Regions from separate parts of the Homo sapiens genome. Here regions 1, 3 and 4 are each linked to region 2. Evidence: fine-mapped expression QTL. A gene starts in region 2. Each other region holds a variant in brackets. All regions are shown on one strand. Distances are between the middles of the regions.

Region 1 (5,205 bases), 140 kb after region 2:
GGCTGGTGGATCACCTGAGGTCAGGAGTTCGAGACCAGCCTGGCCAACATGGTGAAACTCCATCGCTACTAAAAATACAAAAATTAGCCGGGCGTGGTGGCAGGTGCCTGTAATCCCAGCTACTCGGGAGGCTGAGGCGGGAGAATTGCTGGAACCTGGGAGGCGGAGGTTGCAGTGAGCCAAGATCGCGCCATTGCCCTATAGCTCAGACCAACAACAGCGAGACTCCGTCTCAAAAATAAAATAAAATAAATAAAGAACTGAAAGTCTTATCATTTGTTTTGAGCTTTTCTTCTTGTGTTTCTTTTTGAATGAAATATCTGCTTATTTAAAATATTTTAGTAGACCTTTTATGTTCAAAATCTTTAGGTAGGGAAAATGGGAGTATATATTTAGAAAATTATAGATTGTGATGCTTACAAAAAAGTCATCATAAGTTATCAAAAGAATAATGGATGGTTCAAAAATGTCTAAATGCTTATGAAGCTGATTGTCAATGATGTGTTATTTGGAACCGTATGGGTCAATTTGACAATGTGTACTTAAGGATGTCAGGCGACATGTTGCTGAACTGACTGCACTGCCTCTTTTAAAAATGTTTTAAAAACTGGCCGTATATACATTTATCTATGTGGTCTTTGTTAGTATATTTTTCACTGTTTTAAAAATATTTTTAAAAACAATTTAAAAAATCTTAAAGAAATGAACAAAATGGATGAACACACTAAACAAGCAAACAACGAAAAAGCAGAGAGAGAGGAAAAAAAAAGCTCTTACCTTGCAACATGCTATTTTGAACTTAATCTGACAGAATCGCAGTCAGTCCATTGTTTGAAGGTTCTCAAAAGAATGTGAGATCTTATTTGATTGAAAGAAAACATGGCTTTCAGTCATAATTTTCACATTTCACTGGACTTACTTTATTTTCATTGTAGAGTGGTATTTCATGACCTTGGCAAGGTTATAAAACCATTCTGCATTGATGTAGCATATCCTATAGATGTTAGAATGACCTGGTTAGTATACCATCTCTTTCAAAGTAGTCCCAAATGATTATTAAATACATAATAATATATTGAATACTTTCTGAGATCCATAGTTTAGCATCCAGTGTCTCTAAGGACTGTTACATGTTAATCCAAGGAAGAAAACGGTATAATCTATATTATGATGAAAAAATCAATAAATGTGAATGAACAACATTGATTGATTTATAGACATAATGAAAAGTAGTGAAAATAGCTGAGAGAGTGATAATTTGCTGCTATGATATTTCATTGTAATTAATTAGTTGTTCATATTTTCTTAGTTGAAGAGATTTTGAAATTTGACTTTCCATATATTACCTGGGAGATGGCATTAAATGAAATAAAGCCTATTGTTATTATTCCCAATTAATAAAATCTTGTGTATTTGTTGATAGCATGCTTTTGTAAAACAACTTTTTTGGTGGCCACACAAGAACACACATAACAATGTTGTAGGCATTTGAAAAAGGAGCATAGTAAGCTTGAAGGGAGTGTTAAAAAATGGACTATTTTACCTTCATTTGCTTCACTTAATTGTTCTAAAATGTTAATAAAGAAAGTTGTTATTATATTTTTAAACTTTTTGTATTGGTTTCTTTGTTCTGTCTTATTGGGAGTATAGTTTTACTTATCTTTCTCTATAAAAATAGCAATCTGCAAATAGATATGTTTTAAAATGTCTATAGCCACCTATCAATTAAAGAGTATGTCATCTTCTGTTCCAAAAGACTCTAAAATAGAAGTCATTATAATGATTTAGATGTGACATTGTGTGAGTAGAAGGCTCTGTGAATGATCTCTAAATACTTCTTAGGGCATTAAGATTGTGAGACTTTCTGAATGAAGTTTGGGTGTTCCCCAAGCAACCATTAGTCATGGTAAGTTATTCATGTACATGATCTCCTTATCTTGTCTAAATAATCATTGTTAGCACATGACCTTTAGCAACATTCATGTTATGCTCACTGACAGAATGTAAAGGGACTCTACATTTGGCATGCTTAGTAAATGGCTTCAGGTTTTGGTTGCACTGATGTCTTTCTTTGTGAAGACTCTAGAACACCTTTGACTTCCTTTAGTAACACTTATTTGTCAGAGAATATTTAGGGACTTCAATGAGACACTCACAAAAGACAGTTCCTACCACAGTGGGTTCATCACCACCACCACCCTACTACTGTAGTGTTTTGGGTGTTTGTTGGCCACTGTGGTGCTGGGGCCCTCACTATGTCTTTGCTCCCTCCACCTCTCCTGCCCGTTGCTCCAACTCACCTTTCAGACTGATGCCAGACAAATCTTCCTCAAACACTGCTCCTATCGTGACCTATG[T/C]GAGTGAGGGTTTTGTGGATTATTTTTTCTTTGGCCCAACCGTGAAAATAATTTAACCTAATCTATTTTCCTTTTTGTTTTAAGTAAGAAAATGAAGAGTGAAATTCGGCATAGCCAAGTAATCAGCATCCAGCTGTTTCAAGTAGTGTGTAGCCCACCATCTCTTCCTCCTGTTTAATTAAATTCATTAAGTCCATTAAATTCGTCAAGCAGACAATGCTTGGTTTTATTCCCTGATGCCTAATTTTGCATCATATTGTACTGTGTATACCACTTCATGTCCTCGTGGAGATAAGTGCAGTATAATTCTTAAACAAGAAATCTCAGGCTTTTGCTCAAGAACTTCAAATGTTTCCCAGTTTTCTACTGTGTCAGTTCTAAGTTCTGCTATGTGGTTTACAAGATTCTCTGCTCCATGTATTTATTTACCACGAATTCTCAAAATGTACTCTCTGTCTAATTAGGCCTATTAAGTTTCTCTGAAGCTGTCATAGCCCTTCTCGCCTTTGCTTTCCCTGGAGCCCATCATCTTGCCTCTAATGTACTCTCTTTTCCCCACTCCTATGTCAATCTCACCATTCTGTCCTTGAGAGACTAACTCACACAACTTTTTTATGAAGCCCACTGTAATTATTCATGGATCTCCTTCTTTAATAGTAAATGTTTCTGTTTCTGTGCTGCAAAAAAAATCATTCTTAAATCTTGATACATTTTGCATTGACTCCTTAACTATATTATACATTTTAGGATTTTCGTGGGTAGGAATTATGTCTTAAACTTTTTATGTTTCACAAAATCTCGAATATAAGATTGAGGACTCATCTAGTAAGCATTTTGTGGCAGAGATCTAACCTCTTTTAATTCTTCTACATATTACAGATTTTTAAATTGCATAGGCTTTAGTTGAGATACGTGGCAGAAACCAATGTTTCCTTCTATTTCTCTGCATTCTCTAGCCTTCCATCTTGTTCTGATTAATGAACTATGAGCAGAAATGACATCAATTCCAGAAGAAGTAGAAGCCAGCAGGTGTGTCTCCACCATCACTGTCTTCTCCTGTGACTTGGGAGGCCTATGTTCCTGATGGCAGAGTAGCAACATGAAACAGGATTTGTATCAGATTTCAGGTGGACCAGAAATACATCTATGTTGTTTTAAGCCATGGAAACTTTGAAGTCTGTCTCTTGCAGAAGCTAAATTTAATTATCCTCAGGAGTATAAGATTCAAATGGTGGTATACATGTTTTGTGGAATCTTCACGTATATGTATATTTGTTTTATAGAATCTTCACATATATGCATATTCAATTTTATATACATGTATGTTTTATAGAATCTTCAAACATTAATTCAGATATTTGTATTCTCTAGAACTCCAGAGTTCTGCAACCTCCCTAAGAATCTCTTCAAAGTAAATTAACGTCATTCATATCTACAGCAAACAAAGGCACCTATATAATGGTTTTCTCAGTTATAGCAAATGTTGGCTTTGACTGCATTTTGACATTAAACATTGTTGATGCCATTTCTGAATCTACTGCATAGTTGTAATCTTAGTTGGAAATACTGTTGGTTACTGGTTGGTCAAGGAGATTAACCCCGGAGTTTGAGACTTTATTCAGAGTTCTTCTTTTGGACTTGAAAAAAAATCTGCTAAGAGAACTTGTCCCATTTTAGGTTATGCTGAAGCATGACAAGATGTACAGAAATATTCTGAATTCTAAAGGAAGCTCAATATTATGTAATCTCAATTTGTAGTATAATGAAAAAAGTGTGAATGAGAAAGTCAAGGAGTAAAGGTGAATTTGATATTCCATAACTTCAGTTTTACTTCTGCTATATATTTCTTTATTAATAGTAATAGAGCACATCGCCAGTCATTTGATAAGGAGTGATTAAAAAAATCCGTTACCGAGAAAAGCTATCCTTTTGAAGTTCTCTCATTTTAAAAAACACAGTTTTAAGTATCAGATTTTTTCTTTCTAAGTTTTAATGTTAACCATGAGCTCATGCTGTCATAGTGGCTTAATAAGAATTACTACTACATATAATGTGAACAAAAACCTTCATGTTTATTTTGATATTCAAAATGCAAAGTTGGACCAAGATAAAACAGTTAGTTATCCAGCTAATAAAGATATAGGTATGATAAGAGATACTTAGACAATGAAACCTCTCATATACTATTGGTAAGAATGTATTCTTCCTGGAAAGCAGTTTGAAAATGCATACGAAAATCTCTAAAAATGTATTCTTTCCCCCATAATCCTAGTTCTCAAAATCTATGCTAAAAGATAATCACAGATATTATAAATGTGTGTATATTAATTTTTCATAGTTCTTAAAAAACTATAAATCACTAAACGCCAAAACAAAGGTCACGATTAAATATACTTTGGTACATTTTGATGATGGCATATTTTGCAGTTGCTAATAAACAATTTTTAAAGATAACTTAAAATATTTAATGGTATGTGAAAATGTTTGCAATATTAAGTTGAAAACCGGGTATCAAACTACATATTCGATGACTCCAATTTAATAAAATTTATGTAGCTACTTTGAAAAAACAATGAACAGAAATACACAGAAATATTAACATCAATTGATGTTGGTAGTGTTTTTTGCTTTATAAATTTATACATATAGAAATGAAGAATATAGACAGACTTATAGAAACTACTAAATTATTAAGATAAGCATCTGTTGCCTTGATTAATGGAAATCACCAAATTCTGCGCCAGCTGTATGGAGTGTGTTGTAGGCCTGTCATCTTTCTGTTCATGCGGTTGCTATTACCTCAGAACAAATGAACAACAACAACAAAACTTTTCATCTTCTCAGACTA
Region 2 (5,000 bases):
AAATAGGACCTGAACGGTGTTCTTACCCATCCATGATCATGGCATCTAGTGTGGTTTCTCCAAGTTCATCAGGACTTCCTCCAAAGCCTACAGAGCCGTCACACTGCTCTCTCTCACACATGGCACAGCCGCTCTCCACTGCATCCAGGGCAGAGCCTCCAGATGCTAATGCCCTCCACGCTGTTAATCAAATCCCAATAATGCTTGTTTATATATATATTTTTTTTTCAATGCCAAATGCAACAAACCAACTCCAATTTAACAACTTTTTCACATTTACTGAGTTAAGCTGATTTTTTAACACATTAGTTTATCAAGTGTTACAAAGGAGTCAGTGAAGAGTCAAAATTATTTAACTAGTTATCAGAAGAACTCAAAAAACTGGCTATTGGTGCAAGCTGAAGGTTTTTTTTTTTTTCACTTACTAATATCTATCTCTTCTGTGTGCGAGAAACGAAATCAGTATCCCCTCCTTTATTTTAAAAGGTACAATCGAAACCACTAAAAGGCAGTTAAATAAAAAATCCACTAAACCGCAGCCTTCTTCACACATTTCTTCTGCATCATTAGATTAAAATATGCATAATTGATATGTGTATTGAGGTAACACCTATCCCAGGAAGTCTTAATAATACTGAACAGCAAACAATTACAACGTGGACTTCATATGGATTAGTTCATTGAGTCTTCATAACAGCTTCTGTGGTAGGTACTGTACAATCACGACCCTCATTTTAAAGAAAAGTAAACAGAGCCACAGGTCAGGCAGTTAGTTTAAGGTCACACAGCTGGTAAGTAGCAGAGCCAGGATCCCATACATTTGGGGGTGTGGGGGGAAGGGTCTTTGATGGACAATTTCTTTTCTGGTAACAACAGAATTCCTTGAAGAGTGGGTGCTCTGGTTGGTAAACACTACAGCACCTACAGGCTTGAAAGTGTATTTACGCAAGTTCCCTCTTTCAATACAGGCAACTTAAACACAGAACTGTCCCCCGCCCAGGCTGATGCAATTTCTTTTCGTCTCATTATGGCTGGGAATATCTTTCTCACAGCCTGCTTCTTCATTTTCTCTGAATCGTATGCACTGCCACCAAATTCTGGAGCCAATTCTGCCCTAGAAAGTTAATACGTTAGCAACCTCAGATGGAGGAGGAGGGGTCTGAAAATGACTCTTCTGGTCATTAAGCAAATGAAAGAAACAAGCATAGTACAATGCGAAAATGCCAAGATAATGGTACGTAAAGGCTATTAACAAGGTGTAGAAGGCAGGAACCTAACTCATTCTGGACACGAGGGCAGTTAAGTCAGGGAACGCTTCCTGGAAGAGGTGATACCTTAGCTTAGTGGTTCTCAACCCTGTCTGCAAATCGAAATCACCTAGGGAGCTTTTTAAAGAAAAACAGTGGCCCTGATTCCAGCAGTTAGATCACAGTCACAGGAGGTGGGCCCCGGCAGGATGATTTTTGAGAAGCTCCCCAGATAGTGTGAATGTACAGCAAAGGTTGGAACCTTGAATTCTAAGTGGCAGGTAAAGTATGACAACACGTGGCAAAAAAAGTAAATGGGAAAAGAGTAGGCTATGGCTGGGACACTATTAGTCGTCTACAAAATTGCAAAGAAGTGAAGGATTAGAAACGAGAGGTGGAGACGTACACAGCCCGTGAAAAGACTGTCAGGCAGAAAAGCGTAGCTGCTACTTGATTAAAGCACAAAGGCCATAACTATGGTCAGCAGCAGGGTGGAAAATACATTGCGCTGGGGGCTGCATGAAGGGAGGACCTAAAATGCAACAGCGGTAGGTGGGGAGGATGCAGTAAAGGCCACTTGCAAGAGACTGAGCGGCGCTGGAGACTCGGGAAGACCTAGAGGGCGGGACCGCGAGGCCCGGCCCAGCCCGGCGCTCTTCCGTCCGCCCTGCCGGGTGACTGCAGCGGGGCGGGCTAGTCATCCCCACCCGCAAGCTCTCGCGGCGCAGCCGCCCGCCCAGGCCGCCAACCCGCACCTGCTTCGGTTGCATTCTTAAAGGGCCAAGTGTTGACGACCAGGGGCAGAGGGCTGGAGCAGCGCACTAGGGCCTGGCAGAGCAGAAACGGCACGAGAAGCACAGGCAAGTTCGACTTCCGCGCCATCCCTGACCACCGAAGAGACCAGCGCGAGAAAAGTCCCGGCAGCCAGCGATCGCCGAACAATTAATCCCCAGTGCCCCGCCCGCCTGGCGCCCACGCCCGCTCTCTCGGGGGTTCGCTCAGGCGTCCCTCAACTCTCGCGAGACGAGGCGTCCCTGGGCCCGCGGGAGAGTTGTGTCACGGGGCACTGAGCTGTTCCCTGCGCTAAGGTGCTTCTTCCTAAGTGCTGTTCAGATTTTTAAAATAGCCAGACAAGTTGCTGCTTTTCCTGTGGTTAAAATAGATTTAGCTTGATATTGGGAATTTAATACAAAATTATTCAACTCTGGGTTGCAGGGCCCCAGGAACTTTAGCCGATTGCTGTGTACTATGGATTTGGTTCTTTTACTGTCTTTTTAATTTAAAGTTGAAGTTGAAAAGTTTGTCAAACTCAGTATATTCTTGGGGATCCCAGGCCTCGGAGGTCTGCAATAGTTATGAGTGTAGGTGAAGCGTGTTTGCTTAGGACCGGATTGATTTTAGATTTTTTTTCCATTCATAGCGTCCGTCATTTTCGCACCACAGCTTTTTGTAGCACTTCCTCTCATTATAAATCCCTGAGCTGGAAGAAAAACAGAAACGGCCTATGTACCCTCTACCTAGCACACTGAAGTGCAGCTTCCTGCACCTCCAGGGCAAGACGGCTACCTCCATTCCTTTTTAAATGTATTTTTACCTTCCTGCCTGGCACTATTAAGTGCTAAATAAATGAATAAGAGGAGGAATGGGGATTTTACGTGCTTGGTGGAGGCTGCTCAGTTTTGTTGCTGGGCAGACGTGCGAACATGAACTAATAATCCCTTTGGGTGTCTGGAATGCCTGCCCAGGTTGCCAAGGCAAGACACATAATCACATAATTTTTAAAAGCATCTATAAATCTATACAAACTTTAAAAATATGAACTAGGCTGGGCACGATGGCTCACGCCTGTAATCCCAACACTTTGGGATGCTGAGGTGGGTGGATCACGAGGTCAGGAGTTCGAGACCAGCCTGGCCAACATAGTGAAACCCGTCTCTACTAAAAATACAAAAATTAGCCGGGCGTGGTGGTGCATGCCTGTAGTCCCAACTACTTGGGAGGCTGAGGCAGAATTGCTTGAAGCCGGGAGGTGGAGATTGTGGTGAGCCGAGATCGCACCACTTCACTCCAGCCTGGACAACAGAGTGAGATTCTGTCTCAAAAATAAATAAATAAATAAATGTAAAAATATAAACTAGGTAGGAGTTGTGAGACTTACAAAACCTTCAAGGCTCTTATTGATTGCTAGGAAATTAAATACATAATTTAAAGAACATAAGATAGCCCAGAAGTATCATTATCCCGTTGGGGAAGTGTTAATTAAAAGATATAATAAAGACAAATTTTCTAAGTTCCTTTCATGGGGTTTGGAAGAGGAACAAGTCATCTGTGCTGGAGTAATCATAACCCAATGGCAGGTGAAACTGGAAACTTGGGTGAAACAGGGTAAGAAAGCCAGAAAAACATACATTGTCCTCTGAGTAAATTTTCCTTAGCTCCTGGGCTGAGTATTTTTATGCAGCCTTAAGGAATTAGGACATGCCTTTAGCAAAAATTGTAAAATACAATACATGGAAAATTGGTCTTAGTACCCCACTGATCTCTCTAGCCTCTTCCTGTTTTTTAAGGTATTTGTGTTTCTTCTGGTGGAAAGAGCCTGATCTGTTACCTCCTACTATGTCTATTTCTCCAAATTCTTTCTTCTTAAATAAAAATTCCTGTCAGAGAAACAGCTAAATTACACTATAGTGGGAATGGCTGATAGAAGGTCTCAATATATCAACTTTTCCATGGATATTTGTATGTATGTATGTATGTATGTATTTATTTTTTGAGATGGAGTCTTGCTCTATCGCCCAGGCTGGAGTTCACTGGTGTAATCTCAGCTCACTGCAACCTCCACCTCCTGCATTCAAGCGATTCTCTTGCCCCAGCCTCCTGAGTAGCTGGGATTGCTACTGCCTACTACCATGCCCGGCTAATTTTTGTATTTTAAGTAGAGACAGGTTTTGCCATTTTGGCCAGGTTGGTCTTGAACTCCTGACACAGGTGATCCACCCACCGCCCCCACCCCCCCGACCTCCCAAAATGCTGGGATTACAGGTGTGAGCCACCGTGCCCAGCCGGATATTTGTATTTAAATAACTAATATGCAATCCCTATAGAATCTACCCGATTCAGTGTCTTCTTAGTGGCTACTAAAATACCTACTGGATCCACTGTCCAGTTTGCCTAAATTGTAGCTGTTTCTTAAGTTAAATTCGTCTGGATATTTGGTTCCTTCTGGAGTAGTTTTCCTTTGACTAACACTTGAAGAATAATTTTCATTTTAGTTCTAGAAGTAACCTTCTGTTACTCTCACTTAGGTGCTCTTTTGGGCCTAAATATAATTAGATCCTTCGCCGTTGTTTTGAGGTAAATCTAAACGAAAAGGAACACCTGTTAACAGGTAGTGATGCCGCAGGAAAGTGCTGGGAAGGGAATGCTGGGAAGGGAAGGGCGTGGTCCCTTTAAATGATAAGGAAGGGGGGCGGGAAGTGCTGGGTAGAGGAGGGCGTGGTCCCCAGCTAGGGCTTCATCCCTGGGCCTGGGCCTACCTAGGTGAAGACAGGCATTTTTGTTTTCCTGCCCGGATGTTGCATTTCCCAAGACCACCCTGGCCTGCCATGCCCTCATCCTGTGCCTTTAAAAACCCCCGAGACCCTGGCAGGCAGACGCACAAGCAGCTGGACATTGAGAGGAGCATATAGGCAGAGAATACAGGGGCTGCTGGATGTCGAAAGGAACGCACCAGCATAGGAGCACACCGGCATG
Region 3 (5,205 bases), 58 kb after region 2:
CAAAACGATGAAGAAAATTGACATTTTTTTGAATCTAATGTAAAAGTGCAGGAAAGCATCTCTGGACATTTTGTCTTTTTTTTTTTTTTAAATCTGTGACATATAAACAACATAAAAGCAGTACACTTGCTTCTAAACTGTAACTTAAAAAAATCCTCTAGTCCCTTCCCCAGCAAGCCTGCTGCTCCTAGGCCCTGCTATGTGGAAGTTCTGTGGCTCTGGCGAAGCTCCCAGGTAGCCTTTGGGACATAAACAAGGGGACTCAGAACCAGAAGATGTTAGGGTTCCTTTCAGAAGCTACCAGATGTCCTCTGAGACTACCAGATAGGAAAGAGACTTGAAGGGAAGGTAGGGTTGTGTGTTAAGCAGATATAAACAGGGCATACGCCAGTGGAATTTTAATTACGACTGCTAATAATAGTAATTATTATGTAGAATTTTTAAAATTTATTTTATTTTATTTTTCCATAATTTATTGGGAGATATATATATATATATATATATGCCCCAGTTTCTTTATTCACTCATTGATTAATGGGCATTTGGGCTGGTTCCATGGTTTTGCAATTGTGAATTGTGCTGCTATAAACATGCGTATGCAAGTATCTTTTTCAAATAATGACTTCTTTTCCTCTGGGTAGATACCCAGTAGTGGGATTGCTGGATCAAAGGGTAGTTCTATTAATAGTTCTTTAAGAATCTCCACACCATTTTCCATAGTGGCTGCACTACTTTCCATTCCCACCAGCAGTGTAGAAGTGTTCCCTGTTCCCTGCATCCACGCTAACATCTACTGTTTTTTGATTATGGCCATTCTTGCAGGAGTAAGGTGGTATTGCACTGTGGTTTTGATTTACATTTCCCTAATCATTAGTGATGTTGAGCATTTTCTCATATGTTTATTAGTCATTTGTATATCTTCGTTTGAGAATTGTCTATTCATGTACTTAGCCCTCTTTTTGATGTGATTGGTTTTTTTCTTACTGATTTGTTTGAGTTAATTGCAGATTCTGGATATTAGTCCTTTCTCAGATGTGTAGATTGTGAAGATTTTCTCCCACTCTGTGGGTTGTCTGTTTATTCTGCTGACTGTTCCTTTTGCCATGCAAAAGCTCTTTAGTTTAGTTAGGTCCCAGCTATTTATCTTTTGTTTATATTGCATTTGCTTTTGGGTTCTTGGTCATGAAATCCTTGCCCATGCCAATGTCTAGAAGGGATTTTCCAATGTTATCTTCTAGAATTTTTATAGTTTCAAGTCTTAGGTTTAAGTCTTTACTCCATCTTGAGTTGATTTTTGTATAAGGTGAGAGATGAGGATCCAATTTCATTCTCCTACATGTGGCTAGCCAAATACCCCAGCACCATTTGTTAGAAAGGGTGTCCTTTCCCTACTTTATGTTTTTGTTTGCTTTCTTGAAGATCAGTTGGCTGTGACAGGTGACAACGTGCTAGCAGCCCTTGCTCACTCTCGGTGCCTCCTCGGTCTCAGCATCTGCTCTGGCCACGCTTCAGGAGCCCTTCAGCTTGCTGCTGGGCTGTGGGGGCCCCTTTCTGGGGCCAGCGGAGGCCAGAGCTGGCTCTCTCTGCTTGCAGGGAGGTGTGGAGGGAGAGGCGTGGGCAGGAGCCAGGGCTGCGCGCAGTGCTCACGGGCCAGCATGGGTTCTGGGTGGGCGCGGGCTCCCAGGGGCCTGCACTGGGCATGGCAGGCTGGCCGCCTGCTGGGCTTGATGGGGGACAAGCTCCCTCTGGGCTGTTGGAGAGTGCCCAGGCTAGGTGCCACAAAGTCCTGCCGCGAATGCCATTGAGAGGTGAAGCTGGCTGGGCTTCTGGGTCGGGTGGGGACCTGGAGAACTTTTCTAACTAAAGGTTTGTAAATGCACCAATAAGCACTCTATGTCTAGCTAAAGGTTTGTAAATGCACCAATCAGTGCTCTGTGTCTAGCTAATCAGGTAGGGGACTTGGAGAACTTTTGTGTCTAGCTAAAGGATTGTAAATGCACCAATCAGCACTTGGTGTCTAGCTAAAGGTTTGTAAACACACCAATCAGCTCTCTGTAAAATGGACCAATCAGCAGGATGTGGGTGGGGCCAGATATGGGAATAAAAGCAGGCCACCTGAGCCAGCAGCGGCAACCTGCTCGGGTCACCTTCCACGCCCGTGGAACGTTTGTTGTTTCACTCTTCGCAATAAATTTTGTTGCTGCTCACTGTTTGGGTCTGCGTCACCTTTATGAGCTGT[TACACTC/T]ACAACAAAGGTCTGCAGCTTCACTCCTGAAGCCAGCGAGACCATGAACCCACTGGGAGGGACGAACAACTCCGGACAGGTGGAGCAAACCACTCCGGACATGCCACCTTTATGAACTGTAACACTCACTGTGAAAGTCTGCAGCTTCAGTCCTGAGGCCAGCGAGACCATGAACCCACTGGAAGGAATGAACAATCCAGACGTGCCGCCTTTAAGAGCTGTAACACTCACCGTGAAGGTCTGCAGCTTCACTCCTGAAGTCAGTGCGACCACGGACCCACCAGAAGGAAGAAACTCTGGACACATCTGAACATCTGAAGGAACAACACATCATCTTTAAGAACTGTAACACTCACCGCGATGGTCCATGGCTTCATTCTTGAAGTCAGCGAGACCAAGAACCCACCAATTCCGGACACATAAGTATTTGGGTTTATTTCTGTGTTCTCTATTCTGTTACATTGGTCTATGTGCCTATTTTTATGCCAGTACCGTGCTGTTTTGGTGACTGTGGCCTTATAGTATAGTTTAAAATCAGGTAGTGTGATGCCTCCAGATTTGTTCTTTTGCTTAATCTTGCTTTGGCTATGCAGGCTCTTTTTTGGTTCCCTATGAATTTTAGAATTGTTTTTTCTAATTCTGTGAGGAATGATGGTGGTATTTTGATGGGGTTTGCATTGAATTTGTAGATTCCTTATGGCAGTATGATCATTTTCACAATATTGATTCTACCCATCCATAAGCATGGGATGTGTTTCCATTTGTTTGTGTCATCTATTATTTCTTTCAGTAGTGTTTTGTAGTTTTCCTTGTAGAGGTCTTTCAACTCCTTGGTTAGGTGTATTCCTAAGTATTTTATTTATTTATTTATTTTGCAGCTATTGCGAAAGGGGTTGAGTTCTTGATTTGATTCACTGCTTGGTCGCTGTTGGTGTATAGAAGAACTACCGATTTGTGTACATTAATCTTGGACCTGGAAACTTTGCTGAATTCTTTTATCAGTTCTAGGAGCTTTCTGGAGGAGTCCTTAGGGTTTTCAAGGTAAGCAATCACATCATCATCAAACAGTGACAGTCTGATTTTCTCTTTACTGATTTGGATGCCCTTTATTTCTTTCTCTTGTCTGATTGCTCTGGCTAGGACTTCCAGTACTATGTTGAAGAGGAGTGGTGAGAGTGGGCATCCTTGTCTTGTCCCAGTTCTCAGAGGGAATGTTCTCAACTTTTCCCCATTTAGTATTACGTTGGCTGTGGGTTTGTTATAGATGGCTTTTATTACATTAAGGTATGTGCCTAGTATGCCGATTTTGCTGAGAGTTTTAATCATAAAGGGATGCTGGATTTTTCAAATGCTTTTTCTGCATCAATTGAGATTATCATGTGATTTTTGTCTTTAATTCTGTTTATGTGGTGTATCACATTCACTGACTTGAGCATGTTAAACCATCCCTGCTCCCTGGTATGAAACCAACTTAATCATCATGGTGGATTATCTTTTTGATATGCTGTTGGATTCGGGTAACTAGTATTTTCTTAAAAATTTTAGCATTTGTGTTCATCAAGGATATTGGTCTATAGTTTTCTTTTTTGTTTGTGTCCTTTCCTGATTTCGATATTAGGCTGATGCTGGCTTCATGGAATGAGTTAGGGAGGATTCCTTGTTTCTCTATTTTGTGGAATAGTGTCAAAAGGATTGGTACCAATTCTTCTTTGAATGTCTGGTTGAATTCTGCTGTGAATCCATCTTGTTCTGGAGTTTCTTTGTTGTTGTTGGTAATTTTTAAATTACCATTTCAATCTTGCTGCTTGTTATTGTTCTGTTCTGTATCTAATTTTTCCTGATTTAAGCTCGAAGGGTTGTATTTTTCCAGGAATTTATCAATCTCTTCTAGGTTTTCTAGTTTATGTGTGTAAAGGTGTTCATAGTAGCCTTGAATGATCTATTGTATTTCAGTGGTGTCAGTTGTAATATCTCCTGTTTTGTTTCTTAGTGAGGTTATTTGGATTTTCTCTCTTCTTTTTTGGTTAATCTTGCTAATGGTCTTTCAATTTTATTTATCTTTGCAAAGAACTAGCTTTTTGTTTCATTTATCTTTTGTATTTTTTGTTTCAATTTCATTTGGTTCTGCTCTGATCTTGGTTATTTCCTTTCTTCTGCTGGGTTTGGGTTTGGTTTGTTCTTGTTTCTCTAGTTCCTTGAGCTATGACCTTAGATTGTCTGTTTGTGCTCTTTCAGACTTTTTGAAGTAGGCGTTTAGGGCTATGAACCTCCTGTTGGCATCTTAGAACTGCCTTTGCTGTATCCCAGAGGTTTTGATAGGTTGTGTGTCATTATTGTCATTCAGTTCAAAGAATTTTTAACTTTCCATCTTGATTTCATTTTTTACCCAATGCTCATTCATGAGCAAGTTATTTAATTTCCATGTATTTGCATGGTTTTCAAGGTTCCTTTTAGAGTTGATTTCCAGTTTTATTCCACTGTGGTATGAGAGAGTGCTTGATATAATTTCAATTTTCTTTAATTTATTGAGGCTCATTATATGGTCTGTCTTGGAGAGAGTTCCATGTGCTGTTGAATAGAATGCATATTCTGTGGTTGTTGGATAAAATGTTCTGTATATATCTATTAAGTCCATTTGTTCCAAGGTTTAAATCCATGGTTTCTTTGTTGACTTTCTGTCTTGATGACCTGTCTAGTGCTGTCACTGGAGTATTGAAGTCCCCCAATATTATTGTGTTGCTCTCTATCTCATTTCTTACGTCTATTAGTAATTGTTTTATAAATTTGGGAGCTCCAGTATTAGGTGCATATATGTTTAGGATTGTGATATTTTCCTGTTGGACAAGACCTTTTACCATTATATAATGTCCCTCTTTCTGTCTTTTAACCGATGTTGCTTTAAAGTTTGTTTTGTCTGATATAAGAATAGCTAACCCTGCTCTCTTTTGGTGTTCATTTGC
Region 4 (5,205 bases), 45 kb before region 2:
AAGGCGAAACCCCATCTCTACTAAAAATACAAAAAAATTAGCCAGGCATGGTGCCAAAAGCCTGTAATCCCAGCTACTCCAGAGGCTGAGGTGGGAGAATTGCTGGAACCCAGGAGGCAGAGGTCAAGGAGGCTCACTGCTTCCTTGAACTCAGGAGGCAGTGAGCCAAGATCGCACCGCTGCACTCCATCCTGGGTGACAGAGCCAGACTCCTCAAAAAATAAATAGAGAAGCCACTGGATAAAGCAGGTCTTGATTCTAGTTCTCCTTCTGCCTACTTTTAGGAGCTTGGTAGGCAAGCCATTCAGCCTTTACAAACCTCATTTGTTATCAGCAAAATGTGAATTACAAATAGTGATTCTATCTACCTCCCAAGGTGGTTGTTAGGATCAAAAGAATCAAATCTGGGAAAACACTTGAAAAACTTTAACATGGAACACAAATGTAAGCTATTGCATAAGACCAAATTAAATATCTTACATTTAATTGTACTTTTTCCCATCTATCAGTTATAAGCAGGTCACCTGAATTTAAAAAATAACTGATACAGAGTAATGTGTGTGTGCATACCATTCTGGCCATAGAGCATACTGAGAAGACAATATTATAATTCACTGCCTAGTACCATTAGTTAGAATGTTTTCAATCCAACCAGGTGATCTACTTTCTTCCCAAGCAGCTTTTAAAAAAGGTACCAAACTGCCATTAAGTGAAAAAAATAACCATTTTATAAACTTCACAGACATTTACTCCTTTATCTTTCTTGTCATTTGCACAGAAAATAAAATTTGCACAGAAAGCACTGAGTTCACTTACTTGAGAAGTGAGGTGATTCGGTTTTCTCTTCCCTTTGGAATCACCACTTTCCTTCTGCTGTTATTCTATGTGGGCTTCACTAATCATAGAATGGCAGTTTCTTAATCAAAATTGTTTTATTTTGAACACAAAAGCAAATTAAGCAGATTTTTTAAGAGATGGAATCACACAGAGTTTATCTTACCTCCAAAGGAATGGATTGGGTTTGGTGTTTGAGTTTTATTAGGAAATTTATCATAAACTCAGGTCAGATATATTAATAAGTATTATATTTGGCTCAAATGAAAGCAGAGGGGAAAATGACGTTAGGGATAGTGATGGTTGAGAAATAAAAGCCACAAATTATTTAATACTCCTGAGCAACATCAAACAAAACACCTCCAAGTTAAGGGATCACTTTTTACACAGCAATATTTACTATAACAGTGGTCCCAAAATTATTTTATGTTGAACTTAGGTAGTTGGTAAGACTAATATTCAATTTTCAAGAGACCGAAGTTCCTACCCCTTAGGTAGTTGGTAAGACTGTTATTCAATTTTCAAGAGACGGAAGTTCCTACTCCTGGTTTTATCATTCATTAACCTGTGAGCTAGCCAAAGTGTCATTTAAATGTGCTGATTCCTTTGTCTATAAAATGGGAATGTCTATTATTTTAAGTTATTATAAAGTTCAAATGAGAATACATGTAAAACTCTTTTCAAAAGGGAGCATGTGGAAGCATTATCATTATTCTCGATTTAACCAATAAGAAAAATTGTAATGTTAATCTCTTATAGTACAGATTTTGTGTTTTTTTTTACAAATCAAATTTTCCAAGAAATGTTTAAGGTGTTTTCTTATTTTCCAGAGTAATATTTATTGTTAGATTGAGGGAGTGGGTGGAAAGAATACAAATTCAAGTCAAAGTACATAAAAGCATATGCCTATTTAAAGTTTCATTTTCTTTCCCATTCTTATTGTGATATTACTCAGCATGATGTATTACGGGCTTTAGGGGTGATTTGTATTCATCGTAAAATTTTCTCTCAGTACTATTAGAGCCCATTGTGGGATGCTTAGGACTGTCTGAAAGTCATTTATCATTCAGAATTTATGATAAAACCACTGTTAGGCAGCTTCTAGACACTCTGTCATATTTACCCTTCTGGAAAGCAACATAGTGAAAGAACATTTGGGAAGTGACCTTGATGCTTTCATATTGTGCTATTGTAAATATCATTAATGCTAGAACTTTTAAACATCCATCCTATCAAGAATCAACTGCTAAGATGTCTAAAAAGCTATATT[C/T]CTACATTTCATTTCTGACTCTTTTCCTCAAATTGTAAATGAGCTGTTTCTAGCAAGCATGGTCCTTGATGTGGCATTGGAGTCTACTTTTTAGATCACTGACATTTACTAAGGCCTTTCAAGAAATGAAGGCCACATTCTTCAGACTGTATTTCTGGAAATTATGTGCATATTTAGCTGGATTTGTTTTTCTGTGCAAGGAAGAGACTAGAGACTTGCTGTGCAACGTTATTGGGATGCCCCCTTGAATAAGTCTCAAAGGTCTGAGCAGCTGCTCAGAATGGGAAGTTGTGCTTCTTTGCCAAGACAAGTATTTTTCATTTTCTAGAGTCATAGATTACATTGGACAGAGAGAAAATGTTCTGGATTCTTATTGTCCCAGTGATACCACCATACTACCTACCTTGCATGCAAGTTGGTGTTGAACAATGCAGTGAATCTACAGTGCTAGTGTGTATTCTTCCTCCTTATTAGGGCAATCAAGAAAAAACAAAACTACCTTTGTCCAGAATTTAAGACGATGACAACTCTCAGTTTTGAAGGGTAGAAATTATTTAAGTGCTATTTTTTTCTAGCACCAAAGCCACTTCTTCCGTACAAAGTACTTAGATTGTAAAAGTTTCTTGTAAAAAAACACACAAAAAACTTCCATGATTCCAAGGAAGAAAAAATGCAAAAACATTACACAGTCCCCCCAGAGAGTTGGATGCTGTCCCTTTTTCAAGGCTTGTTGCTCCATTTCTTTTCTCCTGACCCTACCCACCAATATAACCAGTCTCTCCTTGCCTAACATGTCCTTAGACTTTACTCAAACTGTTCCCACTACTAGTAATGCCATTACCTGATACTCCAACTGTTGAAGTCCTACCCTTCCTTCAAGGCCCCATTCAAATTCTGCTTTCTAGGTCTTCCCATATGTTCTCCGATCAAAATGATCTGTCTTCAGATATACCTTCATGATAATTTGCTTATACTTCTATTAATGGCTTATCGTCAACCTTATTTTATCATTAGTTATCTACTGTGTTTGAAATAAAAAATGGGCAGCATGTTGGTTGTCAAGAATTGTGGAGCATCTGAGATTTTATCCAAAAGTAAGCTAACATGTTTACCTATCAGATTCATGAATGCTGGCAGAAGACATGAAACTCCTGGGTCAGAGACAAAGGACTTTATTACACAAAGATATAGCAGTAGCTGGAATATCAGCATTTGTCCCAGTTCTCTAAACTCCAGTTCCCAAGGGAGACACAAAGAAGGCCAGGTAACGCCTGCATGTGCAGTGGGTTGCCCTGTGGAGAGGAACCCTGAACTCACGAAGCCCAAATCCTTTATAATAAGAAGTAAACCTTACTAAATTTTGCCTGGAGACATTAATTTATTATTCTAAACCACAAACAAACCTGTCCTTTGCTCCAGAGGCAGCTCCCTTTACTGTCTTCCAAGTCTGTTCACTAAACAAACATCCTTAGAAAGATACCCCAAAACAAAGGTGGTCTGTACCTCTGCACCTCTGTCCGTAAGACATGAAGAAATGTAACAGACCCAGAAAATTGATTCCCAACATTAGTTTCCTCTATACTGCCCACCCTTCCCCTTGATTATAAGCCCCTAGAGGGCAAGAAGAATGTCTTATTATAGTTCTCATGGAATAAATGCTGTTTGTTCAAGAAAGTCCATTACATCTTCTGAGTAAATAGAATGATCTACCAGAGATGTTAATAATTTCCTATGTCAACACACTATTTTTAGAGAAATGTTTCTGCCCCAGCTGTCTGGAGACCAATGAGAATATACATTTTTTTGACAACACAGTCTCCCTGTTCTACATGAGTTTTTCTCTTTGGGGGTAACTAATTCTCAGGCCTTCCATTTCCTATTTCTTCTCACTCCTTGCCACAAACACAGTATTTTTCTACTTTTATTCTTGCCCTCGCCAATACCAAATCCTAGGAAAAGAGTGAGATTCATTTGCACCGGGTATAAAAAGCTTTAGTGTCACCCATCTGAGACTTAATGTCAACTTCCATTAAGTGGGAAAGAAATAAAAATTTTGAGAATGTAGCAATTGCTAGAAACCATAATAAATAAAAATGTTTGACTGCTGTTCTTGAAATTGTTCATTCATAATACATTGATGAACATCTACCCTACCTACACACAAGAGTAAGCTTCAGGAATGAGTATTCATACTACAAGGAAGTTATTTACGATGGAAGTACTCTGAGAGTAGAAATACAGCATTTTTATTATCACTTATATATCTGCTATTTTAAAGCTAACACAAAGCAACACAAAATGGTTTTGAATCAGGGACAAGAAAAAACATTGTCCCTGCTAAGACAATCATGTAGTAGTATATATTCTTTGTCTAAGACAATTCTTACATAGGACAGGCACGGTGGCTCACATCTGTAATCTTAGCACTTTGGGAGGCTGAGGTGGACGGATCATGATGTCAGGAGATCAAGACCATCCTGGCCAACATAGCGAAACCCCATCTCTACTAAAAATACAAAAATCGGCTGGGTGTGGTGGTGCGTGCCTGTAATCCCAGCTACTAAGGAGGCTGAGGCACAAGAATTGCTTGAACCCAGGAGGCAGTGAGCCGAGATCACGCACTGCATTCCAGCCTGGCAACAGAGCGAGACCTCGTCTCAAAAGAAAAGAAAAGAAAAGAAAAGAGAAGAAAATTCTTACATAACTCAAGGTTTTTTTCTTCAAATTAACACCCCTTCTAAACATTGAGAGTGCCAAGAGAGTTTGAAAGGGCCAAAGGGGATGGTGATGATCTTAACAGAAGAAATATGCCTGTATGAGTATGGCATATTTGAGTGGTGTGAGTGGTAGCTGCATGGATTTTATAAAAAGTTCAAATAATGCCTAGGGGATACACTGCATTGTATTTAATGCAGCATTTGCATGGGAGTTGCCAGAACTCTCAGAGGTGCTTTCATAGTGTGTCATTTTTAAACTCTGTAGGTATAAAGATGGTTGTGATAATTATGGGCCAATTTTGCTAGTTAATATTCACTGCAAAGTATCAGACCCCATATATTCCATGCCTGGTGCCACTCCAATATTCAGGATTGCAAGTCAAA

Evidence for each region. PIP is the estimated chance that this variant, and not a neighbour inherited with it, causes the effect.
Region 1: its variant is the best candidate, but not a certain one, in a credible set for the expression of AGA in whole blood (TOPMed, PIP 0.59).
Region 3: its variant is the best candidate, but not a certain one, in a credible set for the expression of AGA in whole blood (TOPMed, PIP 0.51).
Region 4: its variant is the best candidate, but not a certain one, in a credible set for the expression of AGA in whole blood (INTERVAL, PIP 0.62).

Annotation. Positions count from the first base shown.
Region 1 is chr4:177,581,258-177,586,462 of GRCh38, forward strand. The region is part of intron 1 of AGA-DT (AGA divergent transcript); the gene reads left to right. Among named protein-coding and RNA genes, the nearest start is that of AGA-DT, 140 kb to the left of the region's middle. The variant T/C (reference allele first, on the strand shown) is at 2,358.
Region 2 is chr4:177,440,247-177,445,246 of GRCh38, forward strand. It overlaps AGA (aspartylglucosaminidase), which reads right to left and starts at 2,191. Exons shown (of 9, transcript NM_000027.4): 1 at 2,003-2,191; 2 at 27-180. The coding sequence starts at 2,129. It overlaps AGA-DT (AGA divergent transcript), which reads left to right and starts at 4,764. Exons shown (of 4, transcript NR_183779.1): 1 at 4,764-5,000. RefSeq lists enhancers at 1,237-1,316, 2,143-2,686, 2,777-2,856.
Region 3 is chr4:177,498,069-177,503,273 of GRCh38, forward strand. The region is part of intron 1 of AGA-DT (AGA divergent transcript); the gene reads left to right. Among named protein-coding and RNA genes, the nearest start is that of AGA-DT, 56 kb to the left of the region's middle. The variant TACACTC/T (reference allele first, on the strand shown) is at 2,240.
Region 4 is chr4:177,394,694-177,399,898 of GRCh38, forward strand. No RefSeq gene overlaps it. Among named protein-coding and RNA genes, the nearest start is that of AGA, 45 kb to the right of the region's middle. The variant C/T (reference allele first, on the strand shown) is at 2,105.